Linked DNA regions of Homo sapiens. The protein of the gene in region 1 purifies or fractionates together with the protein of each later gene. This does not show direct contact. Each region holds a gene or a part of one and is shown in the gene's direction. Other genes may lie near its edges.

Region 1 (7,846 bases):
GTGTCTTCCTTAATTTTCTAGCAGAATTGCTACCTCTTCTTATCTCTCTCAACACTGTGTTGCCTCCCCTCAGACCCACTTCACATTGTACGTTTTTGTGAAGTGTGGGTGTGTGCACGCACGTGCCAAGAACATAATTTATGCTACACACTGGAGGTTGAAGAGAGCATGGTTCTTCTTCTACCTTTGTCTCTTCTAATTGCCTAGCACAGTGATTTATACTCAACAAATACTTTCTGTGAATGAATCAGTGAATGAAATGTAGAAGAGACGTGCAGAAGGGCAGACAGTGGCCGAATCCTGGAGTCTTTGTATGCCAGCCCAAATAGTCTGGAATGTATTCAGTGTCTATTCAGAAACCACAGAAAATGTCTGAGCTAGAGAGTGGAGAGATCAGAAGTGAGGAAGGGAGACCCACTACTGAGTCTAGGATAAGACCTAGGTAGGAAGTGATACAGGCTCAAACAATTCTTGGGAGTTATAGACCTAAATTTTATAGTAGAGTTTCTTTAGTTTCTTTTAAAATTAAGTTTTAGACAGTAGGCCTGAACTCACGTAGTGTTTTGGTTTTAGTTTTCTTACTCACAGTAGAAAAGTTAGAAAATATGGAGAAACAAGACAACAATACTCAGAAATCCTATCATGCAGAGAAGATCACCATTAGTTACCATTTTGGTGTAAATCTTTTCACACATTTTCCTATGGCATATATATGCATTTAAAATGTGTAATGAATATATGAAATTTTATTTATATATTTTCTTGCTATATAATATAATCATATATATGTTTGCTATATGGGCTTTTGTGTTAGATAAAAAATACCAAATGTCTTAATATTTTATCTTGAGGACTTGGCCCAGAACAAGTATTCAATATATATTTATCAAATGATTAAATGAATGGCAATTATCCATTGTCATTTACCTTTATGTAGAGATTTTAATACTTTTGCTCATTTATAAAGCAAATAATTAAAGCTTACAGCTCTGTTTTTATATCTAATGCATTTCTTTTGTTTTAGATTATTCTAGAAGAAATATAAATTTAAAATAAACATGAAATCTCTGGGATTTCTTATTTATGCAAATAATACCCAGGCATCCTCTTAAACAGTGATTTATAAATATGTCAATGATTTATCTAGAATTAGTAATCTTTGGAACATCTGAACATTTTAATTATTTGATCAAAAGTATTATTCACTCAGAAAACAATTTCTTCCCTTCCCAGATTCTAAGGAGGAGAAAAGCAAAATAATGTTGGGAATGTTAATTCATGATAATCTGATCTGTGTTTTATTCATATAAAGTATCTCTTGGTTAGTACCCCATCGTGTATTCAGTGCCTGTACTTGGTACTCAGAATACTCAGGGTACTTATTGCCTAACCCAGTGCCTGGCACAAGGTGACACAATAAGTATTTTTCAAATGAATAAATAGGAATACAGTGAACATAGACATAGTAATATCTCTTCTAATGAAAGGATATTTTCATTCATTTTTCAAGTGATGTGACTATATAGTAAGTGTTAGGCACTTCTTATTTATCAATAATACTGGGTCCAGGTTGACATAGGAAAAATCCACACTTAATACAATACCTTATATTTAATGAATGTATTTTTTTTTTCCTTTAGAGTGATGACTTCACTCTGGGGAAGAGTGAGGCCACATCCCTGGGTTTTATTTATACTCCCTTTCCTTTGCCCAGAGGAAAGGAATTGTTAACACACAAATACAAGAGTACTGACAGCTCATGTCATGCTCAACTTTATATGTCTTAGAGTGTCCTGAACAGTAAGAATTCAAAAATGAGATAAATCAATGTCTTTTCCTAGGTCAAAGGCTGGTGTAAGAACTACACTTTTCCAGTAGATGGCAGTATTTTCATTCACCAGCTTAAGTTTTGTTTTTTTTTTTTGTTGTTTTGTTTTTAGTTTTACTATACCTTTAGTAAGCTGCAGGTGAAAATACATGTTAATGAAATTTCTGGTTTTTTCACTTTCTTTTAAAAAAAATTCACTCTTGGGAGCTTCCAAAAGCCCTAGAACGACATCTGCTTTGCCTACAATTTATAGCAAGGTATATACCGAAGTAGACCATACTCTCTAATCCTCCCTATTTCCTGATATAAGTTATTACTAAGAATTAGCTAATTCATAGTAATCTCTTGGAGAAAATCTATCAAGCCTTTCTGCCTCTACAGTAACAAAACAAAACAAAAATAAAACACTGACTTCAGGTTTCCTGTTTTCTAAATAGGGCAAAATATTCATTAAATTAAGCGGATACCTCACCTGTCTGGTTAATAATTAACTTTTAAAAAATCCACATTTTTGCAGCTCGACCTCGACAAGACCTTTCAAAAACCCTAACAGATGGTTAGGTGCTATCACGTGTCTGAAACGAACTATACGCTGCAGAAACTAAATTTGAGGAGGAAGGGAAGAAAGCATTTAAATTCCAGGGACATATGCCGGAGTTGGAAAACAAAAGTGTTAATTAGTGGAATAATATCTCAGATACTTTCTCTTCAAAACAGTGGATTAGCAGGAGTAGGAAAGGCTGGGTCTGAAACACGCGTTTCACTGCCTTCTCAGAATTACTCCCGTATAAACAAAGCCTCAAGTTGCTGGAGGGAGCAGTGTTTCCTCTGAAATCACGGAGATAGCCCAGATTTAGTCATCCAGTCCTTCTTGCGAATATTCAACCCATATCAGGAGGTACAGAGGTTTTTAGGGTTTAGGGTATTTTTAACCAAACCTTTACTTTCAAGACTAGCAGAGGCACTTTCGCAGCCCACCCTGCGCCACTCAGCCTCTGCGCTGCGCCCTCCTCGCCTCTCGCGCGGCAAGGACCTGAAGCCCCGGTGTGGCCGCGGCCCTGCGCACTCTCCAGATCCAGGTGAAGGTTGCGAGGCCTGGCGACGCCTAAGCGCTGACAGGTGGCCTCGCCCCGCCTCTTTGTCGCCCAGGGCGGCGCTCGCCTCCGCTCCAGGCCAGAAGCCGCAGCCCGCGCGCCAGGCACAGCTCCCCCGACCGGTCTCAGGAGTTCGGCCACCTCCCCGGGGAAGAGTGGGACTCAGCCAGGCGCCGGGCCGGCCTCTAGGAGCCTGCGCCAGAGCAAAGGGCATCCGGCACCCGACCCGGGCCAGGCCCTTGGACTAGGGCGGCACGGAACCTAGCGCCTGGGCAGGTCCAACCCTGCGCACTGCCCCTCAGCCTCGTGAACCCTTCGCCTCCACGACCCCCGGAACCCATCCCAGCAAGTGCGGCAGTGACCTCGGGTCTCACCGCCCGGGGGCCAAACACCTCGGCCACCCCGGGGCCCCAGAAGGGCCGAGGGTCAGCCGAGCGGACGAACCACATTCCCAAGGACAAGCAGCGGGTGGCAGCACCGCCCCCGCCCGAGCGCCCTCGGGTCCCTTTCTGCCGGGGCTCCAGTGGCTTGAGTGTCCCGACCCCTCCAGAACACGCAGGCGGCCGCAGGAAGAAATTCACCCGGACCCGTCCTCTTCCCCGAACTTCTTCGTTCCTCTCGGAGGTTCCTTCTACCCGACCCCTCTGCGCCACCAGCTCCTCCCACTCCGCTCCCCTCCCCTTTTTCTGGTCCCCACTTAGGAATCCGTCCCCCCGCCCTGCGCCGGGTCCGGGGTTCCTCCCCCCGGCTCCCCCCGCGTGCCGTCGCCGCCGCCCGGGTTCCTCTCCCCCCGCTCGGGCGCTCCCTGCCAAGCCCATGATGTAATGGTGTATGTTAATCAGTAGCATGTGGGGAGCTCCGGCTCGGGCGGCTCAGTCCTCCGCGAGCCGACACTGGAGGCAGCAGCAGCGGCGGCTGCAGCGGCCCCGACTCGAAGCACCGCACTCTCCCCGCGCCGCCCGCCCCGACGGCATGGCCCGCGGCCGGCGCTCCGGGCGCCCCCAACCCCGCTGAGAGCCGCCGCGGCCCCGGACCCGCGCAAGGGCCCCCGAGCCGCCGGGATGAGCCGCGCCGAGGTGAGCGCTCCCTCCCTACGGCCCTCGGCGGGGGACCCGCGGGTCACTGGGGGTCCCCTCCCCGGGGGCTTCCCCCTCCGCCCGAGAAGTTCTGGGAGCCGGAAGCAGCGTGTTGTTGGAAGCTAGCGGCTCCTTGAAGGCTGAGTCGCTGGGTTCTCCTCCCCGCCGGCGGCGGCCACGAGAACCGGGATGGGACTGGGGGAACCCCCGCAGCCGAACTTTCTTTGCTGTCGTTGGGGGGCGTGTGCCTGCGGCGCCGATCCGCATTCCCCGCGGGGCCGCCCCGCTGGCCGAAGGGAGCAGCGCTGCGGACCCCGGCCGTCCCCTCGCGGGGCGTGTGCCCAGCGCTGTGCCGCCCTCGGCCTGCGACGCGCGGGCGAGGCTCCGGGCCGGACAGACCAGCCCGTAGGCGGCGGCGGCAGGATGCCTGCCACACACGCGCGCACACACACACGCACACGCGCGCGCACAGTGACCGCTCCGGCCGGAGCAGGCCCAGGGAGACCTCCCGGGTGGGCTGGTGCGGCGCGGCGCGGGGGAGCCGGGGCTCTGGGTTGCGCCGCCGCCCGCTGGGCGCGGAGCTTTGGGTGGAGAGAGTTTATTTTTGTCTCGAGCTGCTGCCGCGGCTGCTCACGGCCTAAATCCAGAGGGGCGCCTGGCGGTGGAGATGCTGGCTGTTGCTGTAGATGGAGCTGCAGCCGCTCGGCTGCTTCTCTGGGAGGAGGAGGAGGAGTAAGAGGAGGAGGAAGGAACTCGGGCTGCCGCTGCCTCCGCCTCTGCTTTGCATTAGCTCCCACCCCCACCCCCGCGCCCCTTCGCAGCCGCATTGCAAGTTTTCTGCGCGGGGAAGATCTGTTGCTGGTGCTGGCGTTCTTAAGCACGGCGCCCGAGGCCACCCCAGGCGGGCCGTGAGGGGAGCACCAGCCGTTGGCAGCGGCAGCAACAGGAAGCCGCGGGGTCTCCTCCCGCACCTGGGAAGCAGGCTTCTCGCTGTTACCCGGTGGGGAATAGCCCATCTCCCACATCGGGTGCGGAGGGGGCGGAGGGGGCGGCTGGATTTCGGCGAACCCAACCTTCCGCGGGACGCCCCCTCCCCTGGCCCCAGCACCCTCTGATGCCCTCGTCCCCCCAGGGCGCGCTCCTCCGCTAGCCGAGGTCTCACTGCAGCTCTTTCTCTCCTTCCAGTGGTGATCGCCGCTCGGGAATGCGGGCGTGAAGGGTCCGAGTTGCCGCCCAGCGGGGAGGAGACCCCAGGACGCCGGAAATCACCATCCCAAAGCTGCAAGAAGGGGGGAGAAAGCATTCTTCATTCAGTTGTGTGCCTTGTGGGGGATTTTTAAAAAGTCGTTTTTTTTTTTAAAGAAACATTTCCGTGCTACTGTCTGTCATCGTCTCTGGGGAAATCAGCCAGAACCACCGGAACGTAACTGAAACCAGACAAGAGAGGCAGGAGCCCAGGCAGTACCTGCAGCGTCCGGGCACCAGAGCCACCTTGGAACAGGAACGCGTCTCCGGCCGCGGGGCTGCGGCTCCGCCAAACTTTGGGGCGGGCGGGGCGGGCTGGGGCGCCCAGGGGGCTCTGTAGACCGAGGGCGGCCCCCTAACCATGATGTTTCGCGACCAGGTCGGGGTGCTGGCGGGCTGGTTTAAGGGCTGGAACGAGTGCGAGCAGACTGTTGCGCTGCTGTCGCTGCTCAAGCGCGTGAGCCAGACCCAGGCCCGCTTCCTCCAGCTCTGCCTGGAGCACTCGCTGGCCGACTGCGCCGAGCTGCACGTCCTCGAACGCGAGGCCAACAGCCCCGGTAAGTGTGCGGCGGCCGCCGCCGCCGTCCCGCCTGCCCAACCCCCGCTCCTCCCTCCGCTTCTCTGCCTCGGGCCAGGCCGAGGCCAGTCCCTGCCAGCCGCGCCGGGACCTGGACGGCGTGGCCCCGAGGCCCTCGGAATCCACCCCCTCCGGGTGTCCCCCCACTACCGCCCCCCACCTACTTACCTCCGCCGGCCGCTTTGGGATTTTGCCCACTGTGAACTCCGTCAGCCCTTTCCGTGTGGTAGCTACGGTAGCATGAATGATTGATTTTTCTCTCATGCAGTTTCCTGGGAAATAAGTAAGTCAGGTCACGTAGAGTCTGGATTTTCTGGGTGTGTGTGTTTTTTCCTTCCTCCTCCTTCTTTTGGGCAACGTGGCTCGCTGGATTTCAGCAACACATGATAGATGCCCGGGACTGCCCTTCAGAAGCCAAGCTTGGATAAGGCTGTGTGAGGAGTACATGAAAATCCAATTTTATTATTCATTTTTCCCCACAGATATTCTGGTTTTAGAGCTTCGTCTTCAGAATAATATGCAGGTGACGCTAGAGACTAGTAAAATGACATTTGCAGCATATATATATATATATATATATATATATATATATATATATATATATATATAATGCGGTTAAGCTTACTGCTCGTGACATTATCCATATTGATACGGATCTTGTAGAAAAAAAGGGTCTTGGAGAAAGGACAGGCATGAAGTGGGTTACTTAATGCTTTTCGTTAGGAAACTTTACTGAATAGAACAGAATCGTTTCATATTACCCTGCTAGTATTTACAGACACCTCAACTAGTATGGAAAGTGAATATAGTCGAAAGGTCCAGCAGTTTCCTATTTGCTAGCGTGGGTGGTGACAGACTGAAATTATATCCTGGAGGGTAGGAGGAGGCTGGGGGATGGGGGGAAAGTCTGATGGTTGTGATTTTGGATAGGGGGAAATTCTTTAGTTCATGCTGCTGCAGGAGGGTGAACAGAGTCCCCAGTGTTTATGCAGAGAAAAGAATGCAGGGTCCTCTTCCAGCTGTTCCATGTTGGAGCTGCGAGCCTGCAAAGCTCAGCAGAGGTCTGGGCTGCCATTTGATGACAAGGTCCAGTCCAGGGCAGTGGGGCCTGGGAGACACTAAAGTGAGTGTGCCTTCAGAGCAGCAAGAAGCGAGCCGGCCTACTCATTCCTCCTCCCTAGTATGGTGTGCACGATGGTGAAAACACTAGAATGGGATGCTTCCATATATAGAATCATAGGGTGGAAGTGACCGCTGGAAATCTTCACAGTTCTTTTCCTGACCAGACAGGACTGCACCCGAAAGATCCTGCATGGCCAAGTATGGAGGGCCACATTGAGGGAGATTCCATTGAGCCCGAGCCTCCCAGCTCACACCAGGACTCACTGGGGTGGCGATGACAGGGCCCCCTTTGGTTGAGCTCCACGTTTATAAATAGCTGGAGGGCCAGCCTCCTTCACTGGGGTGTGGAAGCATAATTGGGTAACTGATGATCCACCCTCTTTGCTTCCTTCCTTAATTTCAGCGGGAAGCCTGGTTTACCTGCTCGGTTTTACTTTCTCAGGTTTGACAAACAAGGTTATATAAACTTTTGCATTTTATAGATTGCAGAGGATTTACGCAGAGTCATTTAGGTTGAATGCTTGATTTCAGTGCTGGTAGGGACTGTTCAAACTCATCTTTAGGTTATTCAAATGTTGGAGCAGCACTTTTTCCCTTTGAGTAATGGAGATGACTTTTCCCAATAGAGCAGCCACCAGGTTAGTAAGTAAAACAGTTAAATGTTAAAATAAGGTGGCCTAATTTTAAAAATCTCATAATTTAAAAAATTGAACTGTGAATTTTTTGAAGTCACTTGGCATTTTTTTTCCCTTAAGACATGTTTGGCCATACTTATTTGTATAAGATACCCACCTGTTCATGCTGCTAAATGATGTAGATATACAAAATATAGAACCATTGTGTAAGATAGGAACTGGTCTCCAGTTTCTGGATTAATCCTTCGCCTAGACGTTTTGCCTGCATG
Region 2 (3,640 bases), on another chromosome or scaffold:
CTGTACTCCAGCCTGGGCGACAGAGGGGGACTCTGTCTCACAAAAAAATAAAAAATTAAAAAAAAAGGTCTGCTCAGAAATAGGGGAAACACGGGATCAAGATCATTAGAGATTTATAGGCTGGGATGCACACCATGTCTTCAGAGCTAGCCGGCTGTGTCTTCTCCCCGTTTCTTTCACTGGTGAATAACCTTTCGTTTGAACCAGCCTTGATTGTTCTCTCCATGTTCCACTGTGGCTCCCCATGGACACTGCTAGGTGGAATCTCTGAGAAAACAGGCACTTCGCAGTCGGCGCATCTTTCTCTGCCAGCTTAGGGATTGCCGTCAAGGTGGAGGAAGGGTATTTTGGCCATGTTCGGAGTCGTTGTTTTTACTCACTCTTCTTGGGATAGCTTTCCCACCCTGCCCTCTGCTCCTCTGTCCCAACCCTCTTCCAGCCTGGTTTTTTTACTGCTTGAATTATGTATCCAAAATAAAAAGGAAAAGAAAGGTGCAGTTGGGGCGGGTTGTTGGGGGCGAGGAGAATAGCCCTTCTGGTTCTTCAGACCACATAATGGCCAGAGCATGAGCCTCACAGATCCCTGAGCAGACCTGCATACTAGCACTTTCCACAACCAGCTGGCCCTGGCTGTGAGAGTCAGATCTGTCCCCAAGGCTCCAGGTCAGAACTTGGACCCAGGTGCCTTCTGAGGCACCGCCAAGGACACATCCCAGCGCCTTAGGCACCTGTAGGCTAGAATGACACCTTCCAGGCCAGCCCCAGAGGCCCTCAGGGCTCCCCCTCCAAGCCGGGAGGGCAGGCAGGCACAGGCCCCGCTCACTACCTCAGCACCCAGTGCAGCCCCAGGCTCCCGGACGTGCTCGGCCCGGTGGCCTCTTGTGTGACAGGCCCTCTGCCATGTCTGTCCGCAGAGCCGGGTGGGGACCCTCCGTGTGGGTCCTCCTCTGTCCCTTTGCAGCTCGCATTCGCCAGAGCGGAGCGCAGCCCTTGTTTCCTTCTTTCCTCTTCAGCTCTGACTTAAAAACACACTATGTTCCAAATCGTTGTGGGATCGGAAACTAGAACTGCTTGTTTCCAGGAGAGACCACCTTTTCATATTTTTTTTAAAAGGAATTTGTGCTTCAAAAGAAACTCCAAAAAATAAATTTATTGTTAGTCTAGCATATGCTCATTGAAATTGACTTATGTTTTATTTTAAAAAATCATGTAGGATCTGGTACATGGGGCGGGCAAAAGGGTATCATCAGCTTAAGAAGTAAAGAAGTGAGCCTTCCATTTGTGTGGGTGATAACATCTTTTTCCTAGATCGTACCTCAAAATTCAGGCTCTCCATGAAAACAAAGATAATCTGAATAAAAATTGTGTGTTGGGAAATGTATCAAGTGACCTTCAGTTAAGAAAAGCACAGGCTGTTTATTAGCACAACTTGCTTCATTAAATAATTCGTGGCTTTTTCTGCCACTGGGGTTCTTTTCGTTTTGAATTCAGCTTGTGTTTGGTTCCTCGGTCTTGTACCCCTTCAGTTCGCCGGCGACGTAATGGTGATACCCTTTGTTTTTTGTATCATACCTTTTGTGAATTGTGACAACCATCCCGTAATCATTGTGGCCTCAGCAGAAGTTTTGAACAATCTTTGCAGCCACTGTTGGGGTGTGTACCAGCAGCCTGGAAGTGACCAGCAGAGCTGACAAAAGCACCCCCTGCTCTGCCCACCTCCGCAGAGTCCTGTCCTCATCAGAAACGGTATCGCGGATGCTCCTCAGGTAGGCGTAGGCAGACTTCATTGTGTGTTAGCAGTGACAGTGATGTCTGTACCTATCTGTGAGTGAGACCCATTCATGACACACTAGAAATGTGTACATTCTTTTGTTTTCCATCACGGGTATAGGTCTTCTGCCATGAAAGAGAACTATCAAGGAAATTCCTGAAAACAAGATTTGTAAATTCGATTTGACCCTCCCAAATTCAGGGCTGCTCTTTGCAGTGGTCCCTGGCCCAGCAGGTGGCCGGCGTGGCTCCTGTTGGCTCATGCCAGTGTTGTGCTGGACCCTCGAGTATGTGACTGTCACCCTTGTCCAAGACTGGTTTTTAACAGTCTTGATTTGTCATTTTGATGCTTTGAATACTATAAGGAAAATGCCACGAATACCATATAAATACCACACCAATCTGTTGAACATATCTGTGTTTTCTGACATGGGACCTGCAGAATAGTATTTCTTTTAAATCCTGCAACTTTATTATCTAGTAGAATTCCAAGTAGGTCTGCTTAGACACATATTCAGTGAAGATTGTATTGTGTGTGATATTATCCTATCTTTAATAAAGTCCTACTACTGAAAAACAGGGATTTGCAATGAAAATCATAGCTAAATAGGCAGGTTTAGAAAGTTCAAAATATTGGAAGTGCTAGAAGGCTGCAACTTGTAAAATTGTACTCCCCAAGTTCAGTAGGATAGTAGAGAAGTCGTGCTAAGTTGATTTCATTGAAATGTCACGTCTCACATCCTGTGGTCCAAAGGTACTAGTTTGTTTTGTGGAATAATTTTCTGTTCACTTGCTGATAAGAAATTTAGCAGTCAGAAGTAATTTTTAATTAATAACCTTTCTTTTTAAAAGTTGCTTTATGGTTTACAAGTAATACTGATGCAAAAAGGATTTGTTAACCTAAATTAAGTAGCACGCACTTTGTTTACATGCTTCAGTATATTGTGGGGTTGGTCCCTTCTCACGAACCCAGGACCTGTGCTTGGGGAACATTTTGCCATCATGCTGTTCTCTTGTACCAAGGATCAGTGAAAGTGTTTTATCTTTTTTATGTAGTTTGTATTGACTGGATTTTATAACTGTAAGAAAACAGAAACAGAGTGTTGTATTTTGATCTGAAATTTGTGTATGCTAAAGTAATTTTGTTTTATGTATTGGAAGTTCACTTAAAAACTTGAAATATTTTCTAGAAGGGTACCACACAAAAGGAATCATCTTTAAGCTGTTTAATTAACCTAATAAAATAATTTGATGGGGAAGGCATTCTAATTGTTTCTGATTTTTAGAGTGGTTCCTGCTAAATCATCATTATCAATACAGCTTGATTTGATTTAAGAATGAAACGTTGTCGTTTCTGTCATTTACACGGTGTGGGTGTCAGCTCCTAGACCGTGGCTTGTGATGTTAGATCCGTCCCTTAGCAGCCACACCCCAGTCACTGCCTGAGCCTCTTCCATCGCTGACTGCCTGAGTCTCTCCATCGCTGACTGCCTGAGTCTCTCCATGGCTGACTGCCTGAGTCTTTCCATGGCTGACTGCCTGAGCCTCTCCATCGCCGTCAGCATAAGTCTCCTTGCTGTCTTCCCTGAAAAATGGTTTCAAATTGGCTTTCCTCAGAAGACAGAGAGAAAATAGATTTCGGAGGACTAGAGGACCTTGATATTAAGGGCTTGGTAATATGAGGCAGAATTCCATCTGCAGAAAGCAGATTTCTCTAGTTCCCTCTTACTGCGCTGTCCAGAGACAATAAACCTACAAAGATTGGTAGTACTTGAAAAAGATAATTCAAATACAGATCTCCACTGAAGGCAAGGGGTAAAGAGCTTAGCAACTCTACCATAAGGTCCAGGTTAGGTAAGGACAGGAAAGT

What was found.
Region 2: the proteins of SAMD4A (region 1) and GAN purify together in Homo sapiens (affinity purification with mass spectrometry; 2 studies listed by BioGRID and IntAct, with this or other methods). This does not show direct contact.

Annotation. Positions count from the first base shown.
Region 1 is NC_000014.9:54,562,313-54,570,158, forward strand, and holds the start of SAMD4A (protein Smaug homolog 1), read left to right. Parts: upstream 1-4,815; 5' UTR 4,816-5,026; intron 5,027-5,183; 5' UTR 5,184-5,604; coding exon 5,605-5,800; intron 5,801-7,846. UniProt on the Homo sapiens protein: Acts as a translational repressor of SRE-containing messengers.
Region 2 is NC_000016.10:81,387,777-81,391,416, forward strand, and holds the end of GAN (gigaxonin), read left to right. Parts: 3' UTR 1-3,033; downstream 3,034-3,640. UniProt on the Homo sapiens protein: Probable cytoskeletal component that directly or indirectly plays an important role in neurofilament architecture.